7 linked regions of the Homo sapiens genome follow. The protein of the gene in region 2 purifies or fractionates together with the protein of the main gene of each other region. This does not show direct contact. Each region holds a gene or a part of one and is shown on either strand. Other genes may lie near its edges. The genes, in order: MPZL1, FCGRT, HGFAC, IQCB1, FIRRM, ITM2B and PDSS1.

What was found.
Region 1: the proteins of FCGRT (region 2) and MPZL1 purify together in Homo sapiens (affinity purification with mass spectrometry; 2 studies listed by BioGRID and IntAct, with this or other methods). This does not show direct contact.
Region 3: the proteins of FCGRT (region 2) and HGFAC purify together in Homo sapiens (affinity purification with mass spectrometry; 2 studies listed by BioGRID and IntAct, with this or other methods). This does not show direct contact.
Region 4: the proteins of FCGRT (region 2) and IQCB1 purify together in Homo sapiens (affinity purification with mass spectrometry; 2 studies listed by BioGRID and IntAct, with this or other methods). This does not show direct contact.
Region 5: the proteins of FCGRT (region 2) and FIRRM purify together in Homo sapiens (affinity purification with mass spectrometry; 2 studies listed by BioGRID and IntAct, with this or other methods). This does not show direct contact.
Region 6: the proteins of FCGRT (region 2) and ITM2B purify together in Homo sapiens (affinity purification with mass spectrometry; 2 studies listed by BioGRID and IntAct, with this or other methods). This does not show direct contact.
Region 7: the proteins of FCGRT (region 2) and PDSS1 purify together in Homo sapiens (affinity purification with mass spectrometry; 2 studies listed by BioGRID and IntAct, with this or other methods). This does not show direct contact.

Annotation. Positions count from the first base shown.
Region 1 is NC_000001.11:167,763,482-167,766,981, forward strand, and holds part of MPZL1 (myelin protein zero-like protein 1 isoform a precursor), read left to right. Parts: intron 1-2,101; coding exon 2,102-2,268; intron 2,269-3,500. UniProt on the Homo sapiens protein: Cell surface receptor, which is involved in signal transduction processes. Recruits PTPN11/SHP-2 to the cell membrane and is a putative substrate of PTPN11/SHP-2.
Region 2 is NC_000019.10:49,511,316-49,515,460, reverse strand, and holds the start of FCGRT (IgG receptor FcRn large subunit p51 isoform 1 precursor), read right to left. Parts: upstream 2,801-4,145; 5' UTR 2,711-2,800; intron 2,196-2,710; exon of another isoform or gene 2,075-2,195; 5' UTR 2,061-2,074; coding exon 1,988-2,060; intron 1,580-1,987; coding exon 1,328-1,579; intron 1,251-1,327; coding exon 975-1,250; intron 1-974. UniProt on the Homo sapiens protein: Cell surface receptor that transfers passive humoral immunity from the mother to the newborn. Binds to the Fc region of monomeric immunoglobulin gamma and mediates its selective uptake from milk.
Region 3 is NC_000004.12:3,440,671-3,444,767, reverse strand, and holds the start of HGFAC (hepatocyte growth factor activator serine protease isoform 2 preproprotein), read right to left. Parts: upstream 2,801-4,097; 5' UTR 2,767-2,800; coding exon 2,650-2,766; intron 2,037-2,649; coding exon 1,856-2,036; intron 1,719-1,855; coding exon 1,622-1,718; intron 1,428-1,621; coding exon 1,348-1,427; intron 730-1,347; coding exon 607-729; intron 458-606; coding exon 326-457; intron 146-325; coding exon 35-145; intron 1-34. UniProt on the Homo sapiens protein: Serine protease that hydrolyzes the inactive zymogen hepatocyte growth factor (HGFsc) to an activated disulfide-linked heterodimer, then initiating hepatocyte growth factor receptor signaling pathway.
Region 4 is NC_000003.12:121,797,061-121,800,560, forward strand, and holds part of IQCB1 (IQ calmodulin-binding motif-containing protein 1), read right to left. Parts: intron 2,315-3,500; coding exon 2,136-2,314; intron 168-2,135; coding exon 58-167; intron 1-57. UniProt on the Homo sapiens protein: Involved in ciliogenesis. The function in an early step in cilia formation depends on its association with CEP290/NPHP6.
Region 5 is NC_000001.11:169,801,540-169,805,039, reverse strand, and holds part of FIRRM (FIGNL1-interacting regulator of recombination and mitosis), read right to left. Parts: intron 2,420-3,500; coding exon 2,315-2,419; intron 1,872-2,314; coding exon 1,731-1,871; intron 966-1,730; coding exon 800-965; coding exon of another isoform or gene 792-799; exon of another isoform or gene 654-791; intron 1-653. UniProt on the Homo sapiens protein: Regulates PLK1 kinase activity at kinetochores and promotes faithful chromosome segregation in prometaphase by bridging kinase and phosphatase activities.
Region 6 is NC_000013.11:48,253,706-48,257,205, forward strand, and holds part of ITM2B (integral membrane protein 2B), read left to right. Parts: intron 1-102; coding exon 103-231; intron 232-2,471; coding exon 2,472-2,678; intron 2,679-3,500. UniProt on the Homo sapiens protein: Plays a regulatory role in the processing of the amyloid-beta A4 precursor protein (APP) and acts as an inhibitor of the amyloid-beta peptide aggregation and fibrils deposition. Plays a role in the induction of neurite outgrowth.
Region 7 is NC_000010.11:26,700,701-26,704,200, reverse strand, and holds part of PDSS1 (all trans-polyprenyl-diphosphate synthase PDSS1), read right to left. Parts: intron 2,044-3,500; exon of another isoform or gene 2,040-2,043; coding exon 2,007-2,039; intron 1-2,006. UniProt on the Homo sapiens protein: Heterotetrameric enzyme that catalyzes the condensation of farnesyl diphosphate (FPP), which acts as a primer, and isopentenyl diphosphate (IPP) to produce prenyl diphosphates of varying chain lengths and participates in the determination of the side chain of ubiquinone.

The sequences.
Region 1 (3,500 bases), on a different chromosome or scaffold from region 2:
AAGATTGAGACTCGGTCTCAAAAAAAAAAAAAAGAAAGAAAGAAAAGAAAATCCTTGAGAAACTTTATTTATAGACTTTTAGAGACTGTGGCTTTCCAGTACTCATCACCATGGAGAAAACTAGTCAAAATCACACAGAGTGAATAAGGGTTGCAAGCCAGTGCTGCTTCCTGGAATAAGCTGGTCCACTAGTCTAGTCTTGTGCTTTGTCCTTCATTTTGAACTCAAGTGCCCTGGGGCTGCTTTTCTGCGTACCCACAATAGCAAGGAACTCTTTTGTTTGCATCTCCTCTGAAAGAAATGCTTGTTTTGAGGTTTGGACCGCAAATAATAATCTATTGTTCCCTGTAATAATAATCCACCCTCTTTCGCAGAAAAAAAAATCTGCTTGATGCAGTATGGCTATCAGTTTATTTAAAAGAATAGCCAAAAGTGCCCATTATGTCCTGAGAATAAACATTTGCAAGATGGTTGGGAGGAATGGGGGAGTACTCTTGTTCTCCTTGGCTGAGAGTCAGTTAAGTCTTCAAGGAGAAAAAATTCTGAAAATGACCATCAGTCCTGGCTGACAATACTCTTCCTTATTCTGCCCGTCTGTTACATTCTAAGAATTATTGCAACACTGCAGATATTTATTCCAAACGATTTCTTTAAAAAATATGGAAGATGGGTATTTTTAAGTTACCAATTTTGGGCCAAATAAGTTTTTTTTTTCTGACTTTCATTTTGTCTGTGAAAGCATTTCTTTTATAGCAGTATGTTCAAATTAGCAATCTTTAAGAATTTGGCAAATACTTTTAACAGCAATCCTTAACAATTCCTGCAGTTGCCTACTATTGCAGATCTTGAAAAAAGAGCCATTTTTATATTCTAAGTGGTAGACACATTTCAATTACTATTTCCTGGGCTTAGGCTAACTGACAAAACTTGATGGGTGAAATGAAAATGTGATATACGGTGTAATCAGCTGTTTACTTACCTAGCACAGTGAAATCTTATGGTAGGTATGATTGCACTAACAAAACCAAAACATGCATTTTTCTTCCTTAAGTTCTTTATAAGAAAAGGATCAGTTAAATAATAAATGTGGCTTTAAAATGAAGTTATATCTTAGGATAGTTTTAATTGCATTACATATGGATGATGAGAAAAGTTCAGTGTGATAACAATTGCGTAACAGATAAGCATGAGAACTACTTAAAGAAATAAAAATATGCCCATCACCTCATTAAAAATAGACCATCAGGGAAGCCACCAAGAAGTCCTTCAGTAGGTGAATGAATAAACTGTGGTACATCCATACAATTTGTATATTATTCAGCAATAAAAAGAAATGAGATATTATGCCACAAAAAGACACGGAAGAAAGTTAAGTGCATATTACTAAGTGAAAGAAGGCAACCTTAAAAGGCTACATGCTGTATAATTTTAACTAGATAACATTCTAGAAAAGGCAAACCTATAGAGACAGTATAAGGTCAGTGTTTGCCAGGGGTGTGGGGGGAAGGACGGCAGGAATAAATTGGTGTAGCACAGGGGATGCTTAGGGAGTGAAACTATTCTGTATGATACTGTAATGGTGGAGACGTCACTATTCACCTTTGTCAAAATCCATAAGATCTACAACACTAACACAAATCCTAATGTAAACTATGGACTGTGGTTAACAATGATGTAACCATATTGGCTCATCAATTAAAACAAACGTATAACACTAATGCCAGATGTTAATAATAGGAGAAACAGGTTGGCCATGGGAGAGTGAGGGAATATGAGAATTCTACCTTCTATTCAATGTTTCTGTAAACCTGAAACTGCTCTTTAAAAAGTCTATTAGTTTAAAAAAAAAATTCAATATAACCAGACTAATAAAAATATCTTAACTAAAAAGCAATACAAACCTAAACTGTCAGCAATTATTCTGTTTATAGTGCTATTCTGATTGAACTTAGCTGTAGAATATTCTGCCAGAAATATGTAATGGCAGTGAATTACTGTATATATCTAGTAACTTTGCTGTATCTTTTCTTGTCTGGCAAAAATGCACAGTGGTATTCATGTTAAGTCCTACTTTCAACTACCCTTATTCCTTTCTCTTCAGTGACAGCTGGAGTATCAGCCTTGGAAGTATATACGCCAAAAGAAATCTTCGTGGCAAATGGTACACAAGGGAAGCTGACCTGCAAGTTCAAGTCTACTAGTACGACTGGCGGGTTGACCTCAGTCTCCTGGAGCTTCCAGCCAGAGGGGGCCGACACTACTGTGTCGGTAAGAATGCTTGACTTCTCTTGGCTAGTCCTGCCTCACAGGTTTCTTTACTGCTGTATAATTGGTGATCCATTTTTCTGATGGTTCATTTCCAAAATGAGTGTATTTTTTATCTGTTATAGACTTCAAGGCCCTTCTTTTGCTTCAGGATAAAATAAGTTCAGCATCTCTTAAATGCGTCTGGTTTCCTTGTCTTTGATCAGTTCCTCTCCACCATCAAATCCCATTCTGAAATTGATCTTAATTGACCACACTGACTCTAATCAGGATTTATCCTGCATCTTTTCATCTTTTATTGCCCCATATTTATTGATATTTGTTTTATGTATTATCAAATTTTATATATATATGTATGCATCTTCTGATTTGATTATCTTTTTTTAATTTAGCGTATAGTCCATCTGATTTAGCAATATTGATTTGGGAGCTTACTATGTAGTGGGTTATGTAGGGCCTTCAAAAATGTCTAAAACAGAATCCTTGCTCTCACCTAGAGATGATTAGGAGGAAGGCTGATATATAGATGACTTTGGAGTAAGATAAAGGATGTAACAGAAATACAGCACCAGAGCATTGAAAAAAGGTTATTTAGTAACTAGTGGAGTGCTGGTTATTAAACATGAACTGACTATCTTGGTTCTGGTCTGTAAAATGGAGACGATAAAACCTCCCACACAAGGGTGTTAGGAGGATAAAGTAAGATTATTCAAGATAAGTGCTCAGGAGAGTGTCTAGCTCTTGAGTTACTAAAATACACCATTTGTTGTTACTGTTGCTCTCCCAGCATGTGGAATGCCCTTCATATATTGGCACATATTTTAGTACTGTTGCATGTTTCAGGTTGTCAGTGTTTAGCAAGGACAGTCTGTCATCTATCTTTAAGAATGCCCAATTCTTCTTCTGAATGGTGAGTTACATTGTTGATCACCACCTAGATGTTGGGCCCATCATATGCCTATGCCATTTAATCTTCACAGCTCTATGAGGAAGACAGGGTGGGGAGGATGGGAGACACTGACTCAAGAGTTATTCACCTGTGGCCATACCACACAGGTTAGAATTGTTTAAACTTCAATACGGTATGATTTCCCTTATGTATTATTTCTCTCTCAGGTAGAAAAATCTGCTAATAATATTTACGGCCTCATAGGTTTTAGGGATTACCTAAGGCAGTGCTTCTCAGTATTTTTTAAAATTTATTTTTAAAAGGAGCCTTTTCACATTTTTCTTAA
Region 2 (4,145 bases):
AAAAGTATAAAAATTAGCCAGACATGGTGGATGTGCCTATAGTGCCAGCTACTCATGAGGCTGAAGCAGCGGAATCCCTTAAACCCAGGAGGCGGAGGTTGCAGCGAGCTGAGATCACCCTGCTTCACACTAGCCTGGGCAACAGAGATTGTGCGGAAAAAAAAAAATTAGCCAGTTATGGTGGTATGCACCTGTAATCTCAGCTACTCAGGAGACCAAAGCAGGAGAATCGCTGGAGCCTAGGAGTTCAAGACCAGCCTGGGCAACATAGTGAGACACCGTGTCTACAAAATATAAAGTTAGCCAGGTGTGATGATGCTGGGCTGTGGTCCCAGCTACTTGGTTGGCTGAGGTGGGAGGACTGCTTGAGCCTGGGAGGTTCAGGCTGCAGTGAGCCGAGATGGTGCCACCACATTCCAGCCTGGGGTGACAGAGCGAGAATCTGTCTCAAAAAAAAAAAAAAGGGGGGAGCCAGGAGCAGTAGCTCATGCCTGTAATCCCAGCACTTTGGGAGGCTGAGGTGGGCGGATCACCTGAGGTCAGGGGTTTGAGACCAGCCTGACCAACATGAAGAAACCCCGTCTCTACTAAAAATACAAAATTAGCCGGGCATGGTGGTGCATGCCTGTAATCCCAGCCACTCGGGAGGCTGAGGCAGGAGATCACTTGAACCCGGGAGGCGGAGGTTGTGGTGAGCCGAGATCGCGCCATTACACTCCAGCCTGGGCAACAAGAGCGAAACTCCGTCTCACAAAAAAAAAAAAAAAAAGAAGGCAAGGAAGGAAGCCAGGAGTTTGTCCTGGGGGGCGCTGGGGAGCCATGGGAGGGCTGAGTGTAGAAGGACCCCTGAGGAATGGGGGGGCAGAGCGTGGGCTGCAGTGGGAGGCTGATGGAGGGTCCTGGCAGGGGAACTGAGGCAGGTGGGCATGACGGGAGAGAGGACAGAACAGCCTGCGGCTGCAGATCCGGCTCACCCTTCCACTCCAGGTTTCCGCGGCCCCTCTCCAGGTGCTCCCGCAGGCGGTGCGGGCAGGAGAATAGCAGGAAGGTGAGCTCCTTGTTGGCCGCCTTGTCCTGCTGCTGCCACCGCTGACTGATAGCCAGGGCCTCGGGCCAGTCCCCACCCCAGGTGCCCTGCTTGAGGTCGAAATTCATGAACTCCTCGCCGTTCAGGGCGAACTTGGCGGTGGGCACCGAGGTGTTGTCAGGGCCCAGTTCACAGCCCAGCAGGCCCTGCAGAGTGTAGGGACCTGGGGCGCCCAAACACAGGTAAGCGGGGCCCCGGAGCATGGACCCGGCCCCTTGCCCCTCCAGACCGGAATCTCACCTTTTCCCCCCAAAGCTTTGAAAGCTTCCAGAAAGAGCTTCTCCTTGATCCTCAGATCTGTGGTCTCTTTCTCCCAATACCAGGACACCTGGTTTTCCCAGACCCAAGCTCCACAGGGCTCCGCCTCGCCCCGCAGGCTATTGTAGCTCAGGTACTGCTGCGGGCCCAGCCAGCCGGACACCCAGAAGGCAGGAGTCCCCGGGGCAGGCGAGGACACCGCGGTAAGGTGGTACAGGAGGGAGAGGTGGCTTTCTGCAGACAGAAACAGAGCTGAAGGGAGCACACGGGCGGGGAACTAGACTGCAGTGGGACAGATACCCAGGGAGGGAGAAGAATCTATTATGGAGGGAGGGGGACAGATTCAGAGAGAGGGGACAGAAACCCGGGGGGGGGGGGACAGAGACCCAGAGAGAGAGAGACAAGAGACCCAGAAAGAGAGGGGGACAGAGACCCAGAGAGAGAGAGGGAAACAGACACAAGAGGCGACAGGTGGTTCCCAGCCTCAGGCCCAGCAGGAGACGTTGAGAAAGTTAATTGAGCGGAGAAGGCAGCGCCAGGGGCTCGCGGGGAACTCGGGTCCCGCTGGCTTCGCCCCTGCCTGCCTGGGGCCGCCTCCCGCCGCCCGCCTGCAGCAGGGCCCTGGCCCGGAGCGGCCCTCACCTGCGCCCAGGCTCCCAGGAAGGAGAAAGAGCAGGAGCCCCAGCGCCCAGGGCTGAGGCCGCGGGACCCCCATGCTGAGAGGACGACCTGGGGCGGGAGGGGGCACGTGACTCCTCCCGACCCCCGGCCCGCCCCTTCCTCCCGGGACACCGCGGGCACGGCCGGGACCAGGACGCCGAGGAGGGGCTCTGCGGGCTCGGTCCAGACTGACAACAATGCCCTCCTCGTACCTGAAGAACTTTCACCCCTGAACTGGATCTCAGTTGGTTAATTAATTACAGACACTTGATAGGCTGAGAGTCCCGGCCCCGAGCTCCGCCACGCCCCTTCCGCCCCCCTCAGGCCCCAGCCCCTCCTCCCTCAGACCCCGGAGTCCAGGCCCCCAACCGCTCTTCCCTCGGACCCAGGAGTCCGGGCCCCCAACCGCTCTACCCTCGGACCCAGGAGTCCGGGCCCCCAACCGCTCTACCCTCGGACCCAGGAGTCCGGGCCCCCAACCCCTCCTCCCTCGGACCCAGGAGTCCAGGCCCCCCCGGCCCCTCCTCCCTCCTCCCTCAGACCCAGCGTCCAGACCCCCAGTCCCTCCTCTCTCAGACCCAGGAATCCAGGCCCCCACCCCTCCTCCCTCAGACCCAGTGTCGAGACCCCCAGCCACTCCTCCCTCAGACCCAGGGTTCCAGGCCCCCAGCCCCTCCTCCCTCAGTCGGGCCCTGGTCGGCTCACGTTCCCTTCAGCCTCGCTCCCTTCCTGCCTGCGGCCCTGGCCGGCTCCTGGCTCCCGTGACTGGAGACCCCAGTTCCTCTCTCACATCCTGTGGGAGGCTGCTGCTCCCTGACTCCAAGAACATCCAGCCCCACCCCCCAGTTGCAGGGCACACCCCAGGCCCTAGGCCCAGCCTGTTTGTTTCTCAAAACGCTTGTGGTTCTTCTTTTTCCTTCTCTGTGGTTCCCGTTTTTTACTTTGAGGGTGTCTGCCGCTCAGGGAATTCTTGACAAAACTGGGAAAGGAACTCGATGCCTCCGGAGTCCACAACTTGGAGGTCTCTGGATCCTCCTCCTACCCCTCTGTATCCCCGTGGCCTTCCCTAGCGCTCGCTGTTAATCAAAATCTTCTGGAAGCCTCCTTAGTTCCTCCTTCAAGCCCTTCCCCCGGCATCCCCTTAAAAAATTCCTGCAGGTGCTCTTTAATATCCTTCTGCGGGCCGGGCGCAGTGACTCACGCCTGTAATCCCAGCACTTTGGGAGGCCAAGGCGGGCGGATCACGAGGTCAGGAGTTCGAGACCAGCCTGGCCAATATGGTGACACCCCCGTCTCTACTAATAATACAAAAATTAGCTGAGCGTGGTGGTGGGCCTGTGGTCCCAGCTACTCGGGAGGCTGAGACAGGAGAATTGCTTGAACCCGGGAGGTGGAGGTCGCAGTGAGCCGAGATTGCACCACTGCACTCCAGACTGGCAACAGAGCGAGACTCCGTCTCAAAAAAAAAAAAAAACCACATCCTTCTGCTAGGACTTCAGTGACCACATGGTCCCCATACAATGCTGCCTCACTCGAAGGCCCCTCCAGGCACCAGCCCCCGCCCACACTCCTGCTACAAAGCTTCCCATACACTTATTTCATTGTGGTAAAATATTCAAAATATTTACCCTTACTGTCATTTAACACATTTACAGTGCTGTGCAACTGTCACCTCTATCCGAGTTCCAGAGCTTTTTTATCACCCCAAACAGAAGGTCTGTCCCCGTTAAACAGCCGCTGCTCCCAGACCCCTGGCAACCATTCATCTGCTTTCTGTCTTGATAGATTTGCCTATTCTGCACATTTCAAAGAAATTGAATCATATAATATGAAGTCTTTCCTTCCTTCCTTCCTTGCCTCCTTCCTTCCTTCCTTCCTTGCCTCCTTCCTTCCTTGCCTCCTTCCTTCCTTCCTTCCTTCCTTCCTTCCTTCCTTCCTTCCTTCCTTCCTTTCCTTTTTTTTGACAGGGTCTGGCTCTGTCACTCAAGCTAGAATGCCGTGGAGCGATCATGGCTCACTGCAGCCTCAACCTCCCAAGCTCAAGCACTCCACCTGCCTTAGCCTCTCAAGGAGCTGGAATTACACACACTTGCCACCAGGCCCAGCTAATTTTTGTATTTTTGCAGAGATAGTGTCTTGC
Region 3 (4,097 bases), on a different chromosome or scaffold from region 2:
GCCCCAGGGCACCCCGGGGGGCTGACCCACTCACCGATGTTGCAGAGCCGTCCAGCGAAGCCTGGTGGGCAGGCACACACGGTGGTCCCGGTGGCCACGATCAGGTGGCAGGTGCCCCCGTTCAGGCAAGGGCTGCTCAGACAAGCTGGGGGCAGGGCCGAGGAGCTGGGCCAGGGGCCGCGCAGTGCCCCACGACAGCGGAGTCGGGGCCGGGGTCCACCCCTTGTCCCTTGTTTCTGGGTGACCTCAGGCCATTCCTCCCACTCGGGTGTGGACAGGGACACCCGTCAGGGGTCAGTGGCACGGCTCACACCCCGTGGCGCACCTGTATGTCGGGTGCCTTCGCACCAGGTCCGGCCCCCGAAGCACTCGCACTGTTCCACGTGGCCCTGGCGCACGCGGGCCCAGCGGTCGCCCCCCTCCAGGTACTCGTAGCGGGTCTCATCAAAGCATTTCTCTGAGGGGTGCACAGTAAGCCCTCACACCCTGCCACCTGCTGTCCCCGTGCAGGGCCCCTGCCCTGCACTCGGGAGCCACCTGTTCTCCCATCCTCCGGGGACTTGCTCCGGCCCCTGGACCCCTGCGGACCTCCGAGGCCCAGCTCACCTGTGCCGCAGTCCTTGCCGGTGAAGGCCCGGGGGCAGCTGCAGTGATAGGACTGGGGGTCCTGGGTATTGGAGCAGGAGCCTCCATTGAGGCAGGGGCCGGAGGCACAGGGATCCAGGGCAGCTGGGGACATGCGGGAGGGGGTGTGAGGGGCGGACTGGGAGGCTCAGGGTCCCTCTGTGACATTCTCTGCTTGCTAAGGCGTCCATCAGGCCCCAGTGAGGGGCTCTGAGAGCAAAGGGGCCCTCTCTACGCCCCTCGGGGTGCAAGGTCCCTGGGAGGGGCACAGACCTCCCCTTCCTCCCAGCGTCCCCCACTCAACACCTGGGCCACTGGCCCAGCTGTGCACGTGGCTTCCTGGAAGCCTGACACCCACACTGTCAGGCAGCAGACCCCTCCCATGTGTCCCAGGACCCATGTGAGCAGGGCGGCTGGCACCGCACCCCACAGACCCTGCCCACCTGTCCCCTGCCTGGGGCACGCCTGTGTGGCTGCAGGGCCCGGCCTCACCACCAGGCGGCGCCTTGGCCCCAGCGATGGCCGCGCAGCCACCATGAGACGCAGGTCCCACCTGGGAGAGGCTCTGGCCCTAAGTGGCACCCACCGGGGTTAATCCCAGAGCTCCTCTTCTGCTCCCCTCCAGCCAGGACCCCTGCCCGGGTCCGCCCCATCCTCCCCTTGGCCCTTCTGGCCTGGCCCAGTGCCCCCTGCCCGCCCCAGGCTACCCAACCCAGCACCCACCTGGGCCCCCTGGAGGCGGGGTGGCCTCCACACAGTAGCCCCAGGCCCTGTCCCGGTCGTAGTTGTGAGTTGTGGCACACCTGGGGGGCGACACCTGCGTGCATGGGGGTCCCAGGCAGAGGCCCCCCACCCCACCCCACCACCCTGGAGGGTCTCTGGGTTCACTGGGTCCGCCTGCTGCGTGGTGAGCGCCTACTGTGTGCCCGGCTCCCAGAAAAGCAGGCAGCGTGGGGCAGGTGACCCCAGCTCGGGTGCCCCGGCTGCCCGGACCCACCACTTCCTGTGTGCACTGCCCTCCGAAGTGCAGGCATGCAGCATGCGGCCCCCGTAGCGGAAGGGGAACCTGCAGGGCCTCCCGTCCTCGGTGAGTGCTGTGGGGAGGGGGTGGCAGGGTCAGGGCTCCCTCGAGGGGCACCCGAGCCCCTCAGGACCTCCAGCCGCAGCCATGCTCCTCCCACCCAGCCCTAAGGTGAAGCACGACACCTCCTCCCAGGCCCACCTGACCCACCTTGGGCCTGGGGGCTACTGCTCGAGGGAACTGCCCTGGGCGGGGGCGGGAGCCCCCCACTTTGGGGTCCCTCTGCCTCTGGAGCACTTGTTGCTGGGGTCTCAGAGGTCACAGAGGTCACCAGGATAGTGGGGATCGCAGGGGTCGCTGTGGCATTAGGTTCTGGGGACTCCGTACGGTTCTAGGAGGAGCAGAAAGGGTGTCAGTGTGGGACAGACCCTCACACTCAGGTCCTGCCGGGCAGGAGGTCACAGCCCTGAGCCTGTTTCCATACTGGGGCCCCCAGATCTCGGAGCAGGTTCCAGGAGGACACACGACATTCCTGAGGCCTCAGCCAGGCCCTGACACCTTCCCCGCCCTCGGCCCCTAGTTAACACCTGCTCAGGGTCACTGCCCAGGCCCAGGCACTGCTACCCACCAAGCTTAAACCCTGACGTCAGTTTTTGGTGATGGGAGCAGCTAGGAGGCCCTGGGAGGTTCCCCCAACCTCACGCATCCAGACCCAACAGAGGTCCAGAGAGAGGGGGCAGCCCCCAGACCCATAGGGGCCCAGGCCAGGCCGCACAGGGATGACAGCCCCCAGGTGGGGCTCCGTGAGCCCAGGCCCCAGCCTCCAAGGCCAGTCCAGCACCCACCTGCCCTGTGAGGGCCAGCTTTCAACGTAAGCCCCCTGCTCGGACCCCCGCCCCCTCAAATCCCCACGCTCTGTGGCGACCCTCCCTCTGGCCTCCTCCCAAGGACCCCAAGTAGCCACTGGGAACCTCTGGTCGCACTGCGACAAGGTCAGTGCTCACCCCGCCAGGCTGGGGCTGGAACCCCCGTGGCAGCAGCAGCAGCAGCAGGAGGAGGAGGAGGAAGGGGCCCAGCCCCGGTGGGGGCCAGGGGCTGGGGACCCAGGCCCAGCGCCCCATGGCTCCTGAGCTGGCCTGAGGGGCAGTGGGAGGCGGGAGCAGAGCGGCCAAGGCAGGTGGGGTCAAGGCTTCGTGGAAATGATTAACCCTGGCTGCCTCCCACGTCAGGCGGGCCCAGCCGGAGAGGAAGTCCCCGAGTCCCCTGGCCCCCACACCTGCTGCCCACCTCACTTTGACCCTACCTGGAAGCCCAGCTGTCTCTCTGGCCTCGGCCTGCACTGGTCCTAGTCCTAGACCTGACATGGTCCTTGGGCCTCAGCTTAGAAGCCTCCTCCAGGAAGTCTTCCAGGATAATGCAGATAGGTTGGGGCCTAGATGGTCTGGCGCCGCTCCCAGTCCCTGCAGGCCACAGAGCTGGCCACCATCTGCCTGTGAATTGTCCATGATGAGAGCCACTACGGGCGCTGGGCCTTGGAGGTGTCCAGCTCTGTGCCCAGCACAGCACAGACAGTAGCAGTGGGGATGGGATTGTCCCTGTCCCACAGACGGCAGCACTGGGGGCTCCTGGAGGGTTCGGTGCTGCATCCTCTCGGTGGCCCCAGGGCTGGCCAAAAGGCCAGGCACAGGGAGGAGAGGGGCCACGCAATGGCTGAGTGTAGCATAGGATGACCTGAGATCCTGCCCCACCTGCCTGTTCTGACTCTGGGGGTGGCCAGGGCCCCCCAGCAGCCCCTGGTGATGTTCAGAGTGTCCCTTCCTCCCCGTCTCCCAGACAGACCCAGGAGTCCACTCCAAGAAGCCTTTCCAACCCCAGCTCCCCACCGCCGCCTGGATGGTACAGGCCAAGTCTGCGGCAGCACAACCCTGGGCCAGGTACCCTGGGGCCTGGGATGGAGCTGGAGTCACGGAATTCGTGACTTGGGGCTGTGGGCAGAGCTGCCTGAGGAACCTCTTCTGCAATATTGGAGCAGCCGCTACGGCACCTCGGGTTCCTCCTGAGTCAGCAGCGACATCCCAGGGCTGCCGAGGTGGGAGGAGGGGTGAGTGAACCACTGTGGCCTGGAGACCAGCGAGGGCTGAAGCTGCCTCCCTGTATCCCCTAAAACCCCTCTCTCTGCCCCCCATTTGCCTGTCTGTGCAGAGGGAGAGAGAATGGACACCCACTGACCACCCAGCTTGACACCGTGGGCCCCAGGGGGCACAGTGCACATGGAGGCGTGGTGGGCCCTGGGGGCACGGTGAATGGGGGGTTGGGGGTTGGGGGGGAGGTCATGGTGGGCCCTGGGGCACGGTGAATGGGGGGTTGGGGGTTGGGGGGGAGGTCATGGTGGGCCCTGGGGGCACGGTGAATGTGGAGGCATGGTGGGTGCTGGGGGCACGGTGAATGGGGG
Region 4 (3,500 bases), on a different chromosome or scaffold from region 2:
TAAGGTTTAATATAGTCAGCAAATATCATGCAATTTTTTTTTTTTGTAACTTAATACCTGCTCTTCTACTTCCTGATAGACCATTGGGCTTAAAAGGCCAACAAGCTGTCTAAGTTCTTGACTGAATTCAGTCCCAGTTTCCTGTTTACTTAGTAGACGTCTGAGTCCTGAAATGGAATAGCAAAAGGTACAACTATTATTATAATAATAAAATATGATTTTGTTATCTAATCAGTATTAATTTGAAGCTAAAAAGTCTGGCTTAAAAACAAATGAAAACAAGATTAATCATATGATTTTTCTTTTTCCTTTTCTCAGAGAATTCCAGGTTGAAATCTTTAAGATATTCCTCCCTCCTGAGAATTCTTACGTGCTCAATTGTGGTATCTGATAAAAAAAAAAAAATCTGTCTAGACAATCTCTTTAATAAAAAAAAAAAAAAAGGAGTGGGATGGAATCACTGTGGTAAATCAAAAAGTAGAGATAAATTTTTTTTATTTGAACAAAAATACTTAAATGGAGACATTTTAAAGATAAATTACTACAGACACATATTCAGTAAATGCTTGCCCTGTGGAAGCACTTATGCAGATTATTATTAGTCATTATTAGTTGAAAAAGATTATTAAATATAAACATATGGTAACATATATAATTTGGGGCAAATCAATAGGTTCCTGGGAAAACATTATAGGTGAAGTGCTACAACACTAGGATAGTACATTTTCATGCCAAAATAATACATAGTAGTAGTGAAAGGTACAAAGTAAGTACTGTTTCCAGGGTACACTGAAATGATGTATTATAATGTGTGTATTCAAAATAAATACATAAGGTAAAATTGCCTTGTAGTGTATAATTGGGGAAACCACTATATGGATCTTTTAATGCCTTATACTCTCTTCAACACCCAAGTTCTCAGCAGTATTAATAATTGTAAAATATCTTCAGGAATCTGAATAAGTTCTGCTATTGAGATATAAGTCAAAGAAAGGGAGAAGGATTCAGGTAAAATTCCTTTATAACGACTCTGTTGGACATTCACATTTCTTTAGGAATTGAATTACAGAATTGAAAAATGTCTATCTGGCACAATATCAACTAAAGAGCTCTATTACTGGTACTTTCCTTCTCTATTCCTACAATACCCTCAGTAATGACTAATTCAAGGTACATTATTACAATGTCTTCAAAATCATCAAGAATGATAAAGACCTTTCTAGTTGTTTAGGTATTAAATGCATCATATTATATTCTAACCTTTAAAAATTCCCATACAGTATAACCCTATGTTAATAAGTATATTTAATGAACTAGAATCCCATTTCCTGACCACGCTGAATAAGAAAAATAGATTATAATACATACATGGCTCTGGTCAGCAAAGAAATAAAACAAAGATAACATATAACTTTGCTTGGCAATTAAACAATATATATACTACCTTTGTGATCTTGGGCAAATTACCATGTCTCTGTTTCTATATCTATAAAATAAGGATAAGAATATCTATCCCATAGGATTGTTGTAAAGATTAAACATTTTAATGCATATAAAGTATATGGAATGTGCCTGACACACAGTAAATGCTCAATTAAATGAAAGCTATTATATGAGAATGTATATACGCTTACTCCTTTTATCCTCAAAATTTCTGACTTTTAATTCACATATGTATTTGATTTTGGAGGTAAGGCAATTTTTTTTGTTTGTTTTTGAGGAAAGGCAGTGTTAAGTAATTATTGATAGTTCAAAATACCATAAGGGCCACTGGCCTCTCAAGCACAGCTCCATTTTCTCCACTAAAGCTGGTCTTGATAAGGTCACTGATCTTTTTGGTCATTATTTTACTATACTATATGGTATATTCAACACACAAAACCTTTTTGTCAGAGAGGGAGTAAATATTTATGGCAACCTGATCAGAAAAGTATCTTCCACATGCTATCTGTAGTGACATGAAGATAGCTTGATTATATAAAGACTTTTTTTTTTCTGAATTGGTATCTGTTGTGAGTTTTATCTACATAGGTCAGTTATCAACTCTTTAAAATATAAGAATTTTGTTTTTCATAAACCATCAATAAAAATTTTCTTTTTGAGAATCCCAAGAAAAGAAAGAATGAATGTACTACCTTTGTAGCAGGTACTTTGTCTCAGTAAAATCAAAATTTCCTGATGGGATTCAGCCATCAACAGTAGGAGTTTTGTAGCAGTACTTCTTATAACTGGACTAGGAGTTGAAAAAAGCTTGAAAATAACTTCATCTAAAATTGAATACAGGGCTTTTCTTCCTATTCTGAGTAAATCACCACTAATAGAACAAAATAAAAAAAAAAGTACCATTACTAATTGATGTACAGGTATCACAACAAATCTAAAATATAAGATTCAGTAACTTGATGCCGGACTGTGTCCTGATCCAAGAATATAACCACTTTTTCAAATATATGTTGGTTCCAAGAAGATATCATATTCAGTCACTTAATATTTATTGAATTCCTACTGTGTGCAAGGTGCCATGTGTGCTAGGTACAATAGAGAATACAAAGTAGCCAAAGGCCTTCTCCTTAGAGAAGCCTGCAATCAAATCAAGGATGAAATATAAATGTGCAAAATACTAAACAATAAATAATTTAAAAGCTTCAAGGCAATGATAAAAGTGAAATCAAGACAGGTACACAGTTAATTTTTAAATGATGTACAAAGACAAAAATGCCATAGGAATTCTATCATGTGCTTAATATAGGAGAAACTTAAAATCTTTCCTTGGTATTTCCTTCATTATACTAACAACCCATCTTGTATTACTGATGTTGTGAAAAATTATCTAAAACTTAGAAATAGTCAAAAGGAAAGGGTTAGTGAGTATCCTTTTATTTACCCCCTTAAGGAGTTATGTGATTTTCTAGGCGTATGTACCTCTGTTTAATTTTCTACTCACTATTAAAATACTTTACAATTCTGTAAAAATAGAGGTTGGCTGGTAGAAAACAATGCTAAAGATTCTTATCTAAGAGCAATGTAAACAGACTCTTATTCAAAGCAATACAAATGATTTCTGTCCAGTAGAAAAGGTAATTCTAGAAGCTACATTGCTTTATAAGTCATATTTTCCTATTAGCAAATTTTAAAAATCTATCAGCAAATTTACTTCTACATTTCTTCGACAAACCAACTCCATAAATCTATTTTCCTCAAATTCTCCTTTGACCCTGTATAAATATCTTATTTGTTCCCTCATTAATGAGTTGCATAAAATTTTGAGCAGTCAAATTTTATATTTGTATAAGACTCATGTTTGAGCTTTTTGAAAATTGTACTTTAGTAGTTACTAAAATAATTTTGTTAAGAGAAAAGAGATCAGCAACATACCTTAAATGTAAAAATCTCTGAGTTGAAAGACTTTATAAAGTTATCCAATCAAAATATGTGAGAATCTTTGTGACATCTACTTCTGTGCCACTGTGTCTCTTACATGCTATTCCCTATGCCTAGGA
Region 5 (3,500 bases), on a different chromosome or scaffold from region 2:
TGATAAAATCAATGAAGTGTGTTACGACCAGCAATTCTTTAAAAATAAACTAGTATTGGCTGGGCACGGTGGCTCATGCCTGTAATCCCAGCACTTTGGGAGGCTGAGGCAGGTGGATTACCTGAGGTCAGGAGTTCAAGACCAGCCTGGCCAACACGGTGAAACCCTGTCTCTACTAAAAATACAAAAATTAGCCAGGTGTGGTGGCGGACGCCTATAATCCCAGCTACTCATGAGGCTGAGGCAGGAGAATCGCTTGAGTCCGGGAGGCGAGGTTGCAGTGAGCCGAGATTGTGCCACTGCACTCCAGCCTGGGCTACACAGTGAGACTCTGTCTCAAAAAAATAAAATAAAATAAAAATAAACTAGTATAAAGTGCATCACATGTAAAATGAGTTATTTCATTATAATATGTATATGAGAATAGACATATTTACATACACATATGCACGTATTTATATGTATTCTGGAAGGAAATATAAACTGCATCTCAATATCAGTTATGGTTAAAAAAATGTGAAAGTTATTGTCTCTGAATATGGACAACCTCAGAGATTATAAAGTTATATAAGTTAATCATTGTGGAGAAATTACAGTAACTAAATACGCAAATCTAGGTTAAGGTACCCAAAATAAATTTTACAAATTCCAAATTTCAAGATTAAAAATTTATTTGGTAAGATTTAAATCAATTTTAATGCATAATTAGTAAGAAAATAACATGAATCATTAGAGACAATTTTAATTGATACATGATTTATAGTCACCATATACTAAGCAGAAAGTTTTCTTCACTCACCTATTACCATATTCAAAATATCATCATTGTCATCTACTAAAGGGTCCATGCAAACCATGTCCAGCAGTTCCATTAACTGCTTTTGAAGAGAATAGGCCTCCTTGAAAAGAGCCTGGAGAAGGTCTGAAACTAGGTGTAAACACCCAGAATACACAGATTCACTATTCTGATTACGGATAAATAAAAATGAGAGAAAAAACAAATCAAAGCTCAAGAGCCAAATTTACTTTAATTCATACTATTAGAGATCATAAATTTACTGAATCACATATTCATTCATTGTTTAGTGAACATCCATTAAATATAGTGTGCTTCAAGAGATGCAAGCATGTATAAAATATTATTTCTGACTTCCATGATCTTGCAAATACAGAACTAAAAAAGGGTAACATTAGGCCAGGTGCGTGACATTTTTAGCATCCTATCAGCAAAGAGAGGTATTAATTAACTAGTGATTTTCATTCGCCCAACAAATAGCAATATTAAAACTGTCTGTGACCCATAAATTCTAGGCAAGCTTTTGTGCCTCAAGGCTACCTCTGGCATGTAGAGATGGACTAAATAAGGATTAACTTTCCTTTATAAAAGGAAGTTCTGACATCTAATCATAATGGTAATTGAATATTGGTCAATGCAACATGACATAACTATTTCAGGATCCCTGTGTCTGTCTCAACACAAATTCTTAAAACTTCTTTCTTTATAGAGGGGAAATAAGATAAAACTAAAAAACCCCAAAAAGCCACTTTTAATGACTTCCTTAAAACCACTTTTTTTGCAACAATTATTTACTTACATGTTCTTTATTCTATGGAAAAGTTTATTTCAATAATATAGACTAAAATGTAAAATCTTATACAAACATTATTTTACTCAGCCCCTATGCACATTGATTATATACCATTCAAAGTATAATTAGACCTTTACTCACCTTACAATGCACAAATGTGCTTTTAATTATATGAAGGACTGAGGAGGGGAGACTCTGAATATTTTCCAAAATGATGGATTCCTGTGTGGCACAGATATGCTGAACACATCCTGTGAGAGCTCCTAAGAGCTGCACCATTGTCTGTGAATAAGGAAGGAAATTTCACTTAGAATATATTTTTTGTGCACTGAAAAGGTATTAGTCAGCATGCTGGGTGCTACAAATACAGCAATGAACAAAACACAGTCTCTTCCTCTTTTCACAGAACTTTAGTCTATCAGAACTACAAATACTGGAACAACTGTCTAGCCATTTAGAATACTAACACAAACTTCAAAACACATGGCAGGTGTTCCACACATATCCTTGAAAATACAGGTAGGGTCAGCTAGCTTGATGACTTCTCTTCTTATAAGAGTTTATTATTCAGAATTCATGTTTCTATATTCACGTCTTTAATTCTATAAATTTAATTCCAACATTAGGCCATTACATAAGAATACATAGCTAATCAGTATCAGTATAAAAATTTTGACATTCTTTAAGCTCCCTCTCTCTCCTGCTTTCTAATACATTTGACTTACTTGTAAAATATTCCTTAGAGTGGTCTGGATTTCCAAATTTTGGCTTGACAGTCCTCTGGCTTGACTGGTTAATTCATACATCATGTCATCGAATAATTTCACAGTCTGTAAAAACAAATCAAGTAATAAACAGGAATAAGAGAAATCACTAGAAAAGACAAGACAAAACTTTACAGAGAAAACACAATACGATAATTTGATTTTGCACTAGTAACATCCACAGGCTATCATCTAGCTTAACAATTGTACCTAATTAAGCACAAAATACAGAGAAAAGGTATTTTTACAACATAATCCCCCCAAAAGCCCCAAACAGAAATTTATTTTCCATTTCTATGGTTTGAATCTATTTAATAGCATCAATTTTTTTAAAAAATCACTCAAAGTTCATGTTTTAGAGATGCAAAAAATAAAAGTATTACTTTCGCACAATAAATTTGACTGTCTTGAAGAATCCACATTCATACAGTCATTTACAAGGGTATTTTCTGGAAGGAATTTGCACTGAATCGCCTATTCACTACTCACTTATTTTCTAACCAGTTTCCTTTTGACCCAATTCAAGCTAACCTTCCTGAATTAAGGGTATAGTAAATGACCTTACAAACAAGCTTTTTGTCTGTGAAAAGTTAGCCACCCTAGATCTTAATACTTGGATCTTTCTAACAATTTAAATGACCTAAACATTATAAGAATAGCAACACAGTCAACAATACAATGTAGCTAAAGAAAATACTGTTTCCCATAGGCCTGTTAACACTCAACATCCATTTTCATCTATGTAACAGTTGAATCTTTTTCTGGTGGTCAAGAACAAATTCTAAGAAATATTTCAGATAGAGAATCATCAAGTGACTATGAGTACAAGAAATTTGAAAGATTACGATTCAAAGCTAAAGTTAGAAACCCATTTCAATAAGAGATTAATTACAAATAATGTTTCATTTTGGCACCAAAGTATCTTTAGTTCCCTCCATTTAAAACAAAAAAGGTATGCTTGTGCTTTTCAGAGAAAACATATACCATATATATCTAAAATGTAATAATGTATTCTGTGAATTTAATGTTTTCTCTTAGTTACTTGATTTTGCCAATATTCCAGCTTTTCTTTTTTTTTTTTTTTTTTTTGAATTAAGGGTTTCACTCTGTCACCCAGGCTGGAGTACAGTGGCTTTAAAATACAAGA
Region 6 (3,500 bases), on a different chromosome or scaffold from region 2:
TCTTCATTTATTAAAATGATAATCATTAAGGTTTTTCTAGTCCTGAGCCTTCTGTTATTCTGTCTGGAGATAAGATATTTAACTGTCTTTTTCATATTTTAGGACCCAGATGATGTGGTACCAGTTGGCCAAAGAAGAGCCTGGTGTTGGTGCATGTGCTTTGGACTAGCATTTATGCTTGCAGGTGTTATTCTAGGAGGAGCATACTTGTACAAATATTTTGCACTTCAAGTAAGTGGAAAAATTATTTTGTGTCTCTGATTTTTTTTTTTTTTTGCCTCTCCCGATGTGCATTACAAAATTGTTTACAACTTGCGCTAAGCTTGTACTTTTTATCTGTGACCTTCAGCCAGAGTGGTAGTTCTATTTTAAAGCTGTGTTTAAACATCTCTCCATGATATGTTTGCTGAGCCCATCACACACAGTCACTAAAAGCAGAGTAACTTGAAATGTTGGTGACTAAGGGATTTATTTAGGTCATTGGGTGATTTTACTAACCTTTATTTTCCTACTATAATTAAGGGTTGAGAGGAATAGTATTATCAATTGCCAGTTGAATAAATACATCAGCCACAAATGTTTTCATGTTGATAGGCCATAACTTGATAGTCAGCTTGGACTCCCCTATGGTCCTGCTGTACCCTTGGGCCCAGAATACAGTAAGACCATGTCTCTGCTTCTTTTCCAGTCATGGTTTCACTAAAGAACTGGGTGACTTCAGCAGTGATATTGAAATAACATAGGATGAAAGTTGTTTATAACTTTGAGTGTTTAATAGTAATCCCAGTGGGTTAAGACAAAGGTCTTCCTTGTGATTGATTATAATTTACAATCTATTTTGTAATATATTTCTCTTGGCAATAATACACAATTTTTTTTTTTAGGAGTTTTGAAGGGGAAATTACTTTCAAGGTTTTATGACTACTTCAGCTGTTTCAAAATTTGGAGAAACAGTTGACAACTAGACTTATTAAAATAATTTAACTAATTTTGAAACATTCTCAATTTCATGCTCATTTTCTGTGTTGTTCAAGATAATCAATCACATGTTGATAGACATTACCAAAATACTAGTCATCTTTTTAAATACAGTTTTATTTACAAGAAATACATATAGTATAGAAAAAATCATCGCAATTCCATTTTCCAGAGATAACATTTGGTGCATTAACTTTTTTTTTTTTCTTGAGACAGAGTTTCTCTCTTGTTGCCCAGACTGGAGTCCAATGGCGCGATCTCGGCTCACTGCACCCTCTGTCTCCCGGGTTCAGGCAATTCTCCTGCCTCAGCCTCCCAAGTAGCTGAGATTACAGGCACCTGCCACCACTCCTGGCTAATTTTTGTACTTTTAGTAGAGACAGGGTTTCATCATGTTGGCCAGGCTGGTCTCAAACTCCTGACCTCAGGCGATCCACCCACCTTGGCCTCCCAAAGTGCTAGGATTACAGGCGTGACACACCATGCCTGGCCCTGTGCATTCACATTTTGTATACCCTTAGTCTTTATTGTGTGTGTAGTGTGTGTAGTGTGTGTGTGTGTGTGTGTGTGTGCGCGCGCGTGTGCGTGCGCGCACGTGTACATGTACTGTGTGTTTGGCTTTTTTTGAGATGGGGTCTCACTCTGTCATCCAGGCTGGAGTGCGGTGGTGCAATCACAGCTCACTGTAGCCTCAACCTCTTGGGCTCAGGCAATCCTCCCGCCTCAACCTCCCCAGGAGTAGCTAGGACTACAGGTGCGTGGCACCATACCCAGCTAATTTTTTTATTTTTTGTGGAGACAGGGTCTCACCATGTTGCCCAGGCTGGTCTTGAACTCCTGGGCTCAAGCAGTCCATCTGTCTCAGGCCTCCTCCCCACAAAGTATTAGGATTACAGGCATGAGTTACTGCACCCGACCTTATGTACTGTTTTTTCTTTTTGTAAAAGTGAGACAGTAGCATAAAGATTTGCTGTAATCTAATATTTTCCACTGAATTGTGATATAAAGGGAAAAGTAGAACTACGTATATGCATATAGAAATTTCAGAAAAATTATCCCTTTTTTGGCTAATAAGAAAAAAGTCATTTAATTAGTAGACCATATCAAAACTTTTTAATATATTCTTTCAGAAAAACTTGACTAGTTTTGGAATGTATTCTTCTATAAAAACTGCTTACAGGTAGAGTAGGTCTGTTGTTTCTTTATATTTATTTGTTACTGGATAGCTAATTATTTTTATGTTCTATTTTCACCTACCAGGAAAAGTAAAGGGAAAACCAGCTGCCTTTCTTCTGAAGCTGTTCTTTTACAGTGCTTCAAAACCTGATCTTAAAGAATATGTTAACTCTGTAATTAAACTGTCTGACTTGTCATCTAAAAGCAAGAGTTTGCAAGCAAAATGCTATTTAGATAGAGGTGGCAGCTTAAGTAATGCTTATTTAAAAACCTGTCTCATGCTGAATTGCTGAAATGAGTCTTTAAACTCTCTATAGCCAGATGACGTGTACTACTGTGGAATAAAGTACATCAAAGATGATGTCATCTTAAATGAGCCCTCTGCAGATGCCCCAGCTGCTCTCTACCAGACAATTGAAGAAAATATTAAAATCTTTGAAGAAGAAGAAGTTGAATTTATCAGTGTGCCTGTCCCAGAGTTTGCAGATAGTGATCCTGCCAACATTGTTCATGACTTTAACAAGGTGAGCCAAGTGTCCAGAATTGTAGAAAGAATGCAGGTTCTGTAGTTTATGCTTTTTGTAGTTTTAATTTCAATATTTGCTAATTTATTATATTTAGAGTTTAGTTTAATAAACTGTCAGCATTTGGTGGGCTCTGCTATGTCTGAAGCAGACCCTGCTGATGCAGCCTTCTCATATCTTATCTCTCCTTCCCCTTGCCTTACCTACTCTTAAAGCCCACCTCATGACTGTTCCTCCTTTGCTGGCAAACTAATATTTTTTATATGTTCCCACATTTTCTTAGATAAGAGGTAATTTATGTTCCTGTTTCTTGGTAGCATTTTCAAAATCAATAATTTTGTTAATCTGTTTTTAAGTTCTCATTCTATATTTTTCCCCAGCTTTTGAGCATTTTTATGTAATGCAGAAAAGTTGAATACCCAAAATCCTCCACTTTGTTCCAAATATTGCCATATTTGCTTCATCTCTTTTTCTGTCATTTGACATAAGTACTTATGCTATTATCTCTCAAGAATGAGTTGTCCTCCTACGTAACCACATAATTATCACATCTAAGAAAATTAACATGATCTTATAGGACAGTAGTCCCCCCTTATCCGTGGGGGATACATGCCAAGACCCCCAGTGGATGTCTGAAACTGCATATAGTACCAAACCCTGTATATACTATGTTTTTTCCTGTTAGTGTACATATATACATATGTTAAAATTTAATTTACAAATTAGCCACAGTAATAGATTAACGACAATAATAATAAAACAGTTATAACAAAATACTATAATAAAAGTTATGTGAAGGTGGTTTCTCAAAATATTTTATTA
Region 7 (3,500 bases), on a different chromosome or scaffold from region 2:
CTGGAATGAATCGGATTGTGGGGGTGTTTTGTTTTATTCCTTCTTTTGGTAGATATTTTCTGATTCTTCTCTAATGAACATGTATTGCTCTAGCCATATTTTTTTTTTTTTTTTTTTGTGAGACGGAGTCTCGTTCTGTCGTCCAGGCTGGAGTGCAGTGGCGCTATCTCGGCTCACTGCAGGCTCCGCCCCCCAGGGTTCACGCCATTCTCCTGTCTCAGCCTCCTGAGTAGCTGGGACTACAGGCGCCCACCACCTCGCCTGGCTAATTTTTTGTATTTTTAGTAGAGATGGGGTTTCACCGTGTTAGCCAGGATGGTCTCGATCTCCTGACCTCATGATCCGCCCGCCTTGGCCTCCCAAAGTGCTGGGATTACAGGCGTGAGCCACCGCGCCCGGCGCCATATTAAAATGACAATGAAAGTTGACTTTGCCAGACACCAGTCAAAGTAGTTGGCCTGAGTTTCATTCTTTCCCCCACAGCATTACATATTCATTAAACCAGTAAGAACTTTCATGATATCCCAGGCAATTACAGTGCAACAAGAAAACAAAGTGACAATCCTCCTTCATGCTTTATATGACAACCATTATATGACAACCTATGTCTTTCAGTCTACATGGGTAATTAATTCATATGAGTTCAGTATTTTATTATAATACTTATAAATAAGGGCATCTTAATGGAAGAGTAAAACTTCTTCAGTAAGAGACTTAATAATTATTATCAGGTCTCTAGTAATAGTTACTATTATTAGAAATCCTGAGCAAAAGTGATCCTCCTGCCACAGCCTCCCCAAGTGCTGGAATTACAGACGTGAGTCACTGCGCTTGACCAAATAACTATGATTAGTTATAATAACTAACTGAACTATTCTAACTGAATAACTTTTTAGTTATTCAGTTATAGACCCCTAATCTGGGTTGAAGGATTAAAATTACACAGCTAATTAATACAGGGGACGCTTTTTACCACCAAGTGGCCTAACAATTATTAGTAGCATGGACTTTGGAAGACAGATCTCGGTTCAAATCTCAACATTTGTGTTACCTTGTGATGTCTTTCTGATAATACCTACTCATGGAGAGAGGTGGAGATTAATTTAGAGAGCAGATGTAAAGCTCTTAGCTCAGAGCCTGGTACACAATATACATTTAATACAGTATCTATTCAATCAAGCTACTATTTTCTGCTTTAAAAGTACTTTAGAGCAGTTTTTCAAAGGGAGGTGAGAGGTGCTCAGAAAAGCAGTGAAGAATGAAAAGAGAGGGGCAACAGTCATTTTCTAATTCCGATTTTGTTTCTTACCTTTCCCTCACACACTCTCTGAAAGTCAACCTTGCCTCTCATGAATTTACTTTTATTTTATTTTTCCAGGCTGGAGTGCAGTGGTGCAATCATAGCTCACTGCAGCCTCAATCTCCTGGGCTCAAGCTATCTTCCCACCTCAGCCTACTGAGTAGCTGGGACTACAGGAACATGCCACAATGCGTAGCTGATTTTTAGAAACGAGGTGTATTAGTATGTTTTCACATTGCTATAAAGAAATACCCAAGACTGGGTAATTTATAAAAGAAAGAGGTGTAACTGACTCACAGTTCCAAACGGCTAGGGAGGCCTCAAGAAACTTACAATCATGGCAGAAGGAAAAGGGAAAGCAAGGCACCTTCTTCACTAGGCAGCAGGAAGGAGAATGAACACAGAAGGAACTACCAATCACTTATAAAACCATCAGATCTCATAAGAATTCGCTATAACAAGAACAGCATGGGGGAATCTGCCCCCAGGATCCAATTACCTCCACATAGGCCCTCCTTTGACACATGGGGATTAAAATTTGAGATGAGATTTGGGTAGAGACACAGAACCAACCATATCGTTCTGCCCCTTGCTCCTCCCAAATCTCATATCCTCATTTTTCAAAACCAATCATTCCTTCCGAACAGTCCCCAAAAGTCTTAACTCATTCTAGCATTAACTCAAAAGTCCAAGTCCAAAGTCTTACCTGAGACAAGTCAAGTCCCTTCCGCCTATGAACCTGTAAAATCAAAAACAAGTTACGTTACATCCAAGATACAATGGGAGTACAGGTATTGGTTAAATGTTCCCATTCCAAATGGTAGAAATTGGCCAAAACGAAGGGGCTTACAGGCCTCATGCAAGTCCAAACCCAGCAGGGCAGTCATTACTTAAAGCTCCAAAATGATCTTTGACTCCATGTCTCACATCTAGGTCACACTGATGCAAAGGGTGGGCTCCCAAGAACTTGGGTGGCTCTGACTCTGTGGCTTTGCAGGGTTCAACCCCCACTGCTATTCTCATGGGCTGGCATTGAGTGCCTGCAGCTTTTCCAGGTGCACGGTGGAAGCTGTTGGTGGACCTACCATTCTGGGGTCTAGAGCACGGTGGCCCTCCTTTCACAGCTCCATTAGGCAGTGCCCCAGCAGGGACTCCGTGTGGGGGCTGCAACCCCACATTTCCTTTCTGCACTGTCCTAACAGAGGTTCTCCATGAGGGTTCTCCCCCCTTCAGCAGACTTCTGCTTGGGCATTGAGGCATTTCCATACATCCTCTGAAATCTAGGCAGAAGTTCCCAAATTGTTGTCTTCTGTGCACCTTGCAGGCTCAGCAGCACATGGAAGCCACCAAGGCTTGGGGCTTATACCCTCTGAAGCAATGGCCCAAGCTGTACCTTGGCCCCTTTTAGCTACGGCTGGGAAGCAGGGCACCAAGTCCCAGGGCTGCTCTTGCACAGAGCAGCAGGGCCCTGGGCCCAGCCCATGAATCCATTTTTCCCTCCTAGGCCTCCTGGCCTGTGATGGGAGGGGCTGCAGAGAAGGTCTCTGACATGCTCTGGAGACATTTTCCCCATTCTCTTGGCTATTAACATTCGGCTCCTTGTTACTTATGCAAATGTCTGCAGCCAGCTTGAATTCCTCCCCAGAAAATTCTTTTCTATCACATCTTCAGGCTGCAAATTTTCCAAACGTTTATGCTCTGCTTCCCCTTTAAATTTAAGTTCCAATTTCAGATCATCTCTCTCAGGCTCAAAGTTCCACAGATCTCTAGGGTGGGGCAAAATGCCACCAGTCTCTTTGCTAAAGCATAGCAAGAGTGACCTTTGCCCAGTTCCCAGGAAGCTCCTCATCTCCATCTGAGACCACCTCAGCCTGGACTTCATCGTCCATATCACTTTCAGCATTTTGGTCAAAGCCATTCAACAAGACTCTAGGAATTTCCAAACTTTCCTACATCTTCCTTTCTTCTTCTGAGCCCTCCAAACTATTCCAACCTCTGCTTGTTACCCAGTTCCAAAGTAATTTCCACATTCTCAGGTATCTTATATCAATGCCAACTACTTTGGTACCAATTATCTGTATTGGTCCATTCTCACACTGCTATAAAGAAATTACCCATGACTGGGCAATCTATAATTATAGGAAAGAGGTTTAATTGACTCACAGTTCTGAATGGCTGGGGAGGCCTCAGAAACTTAGAA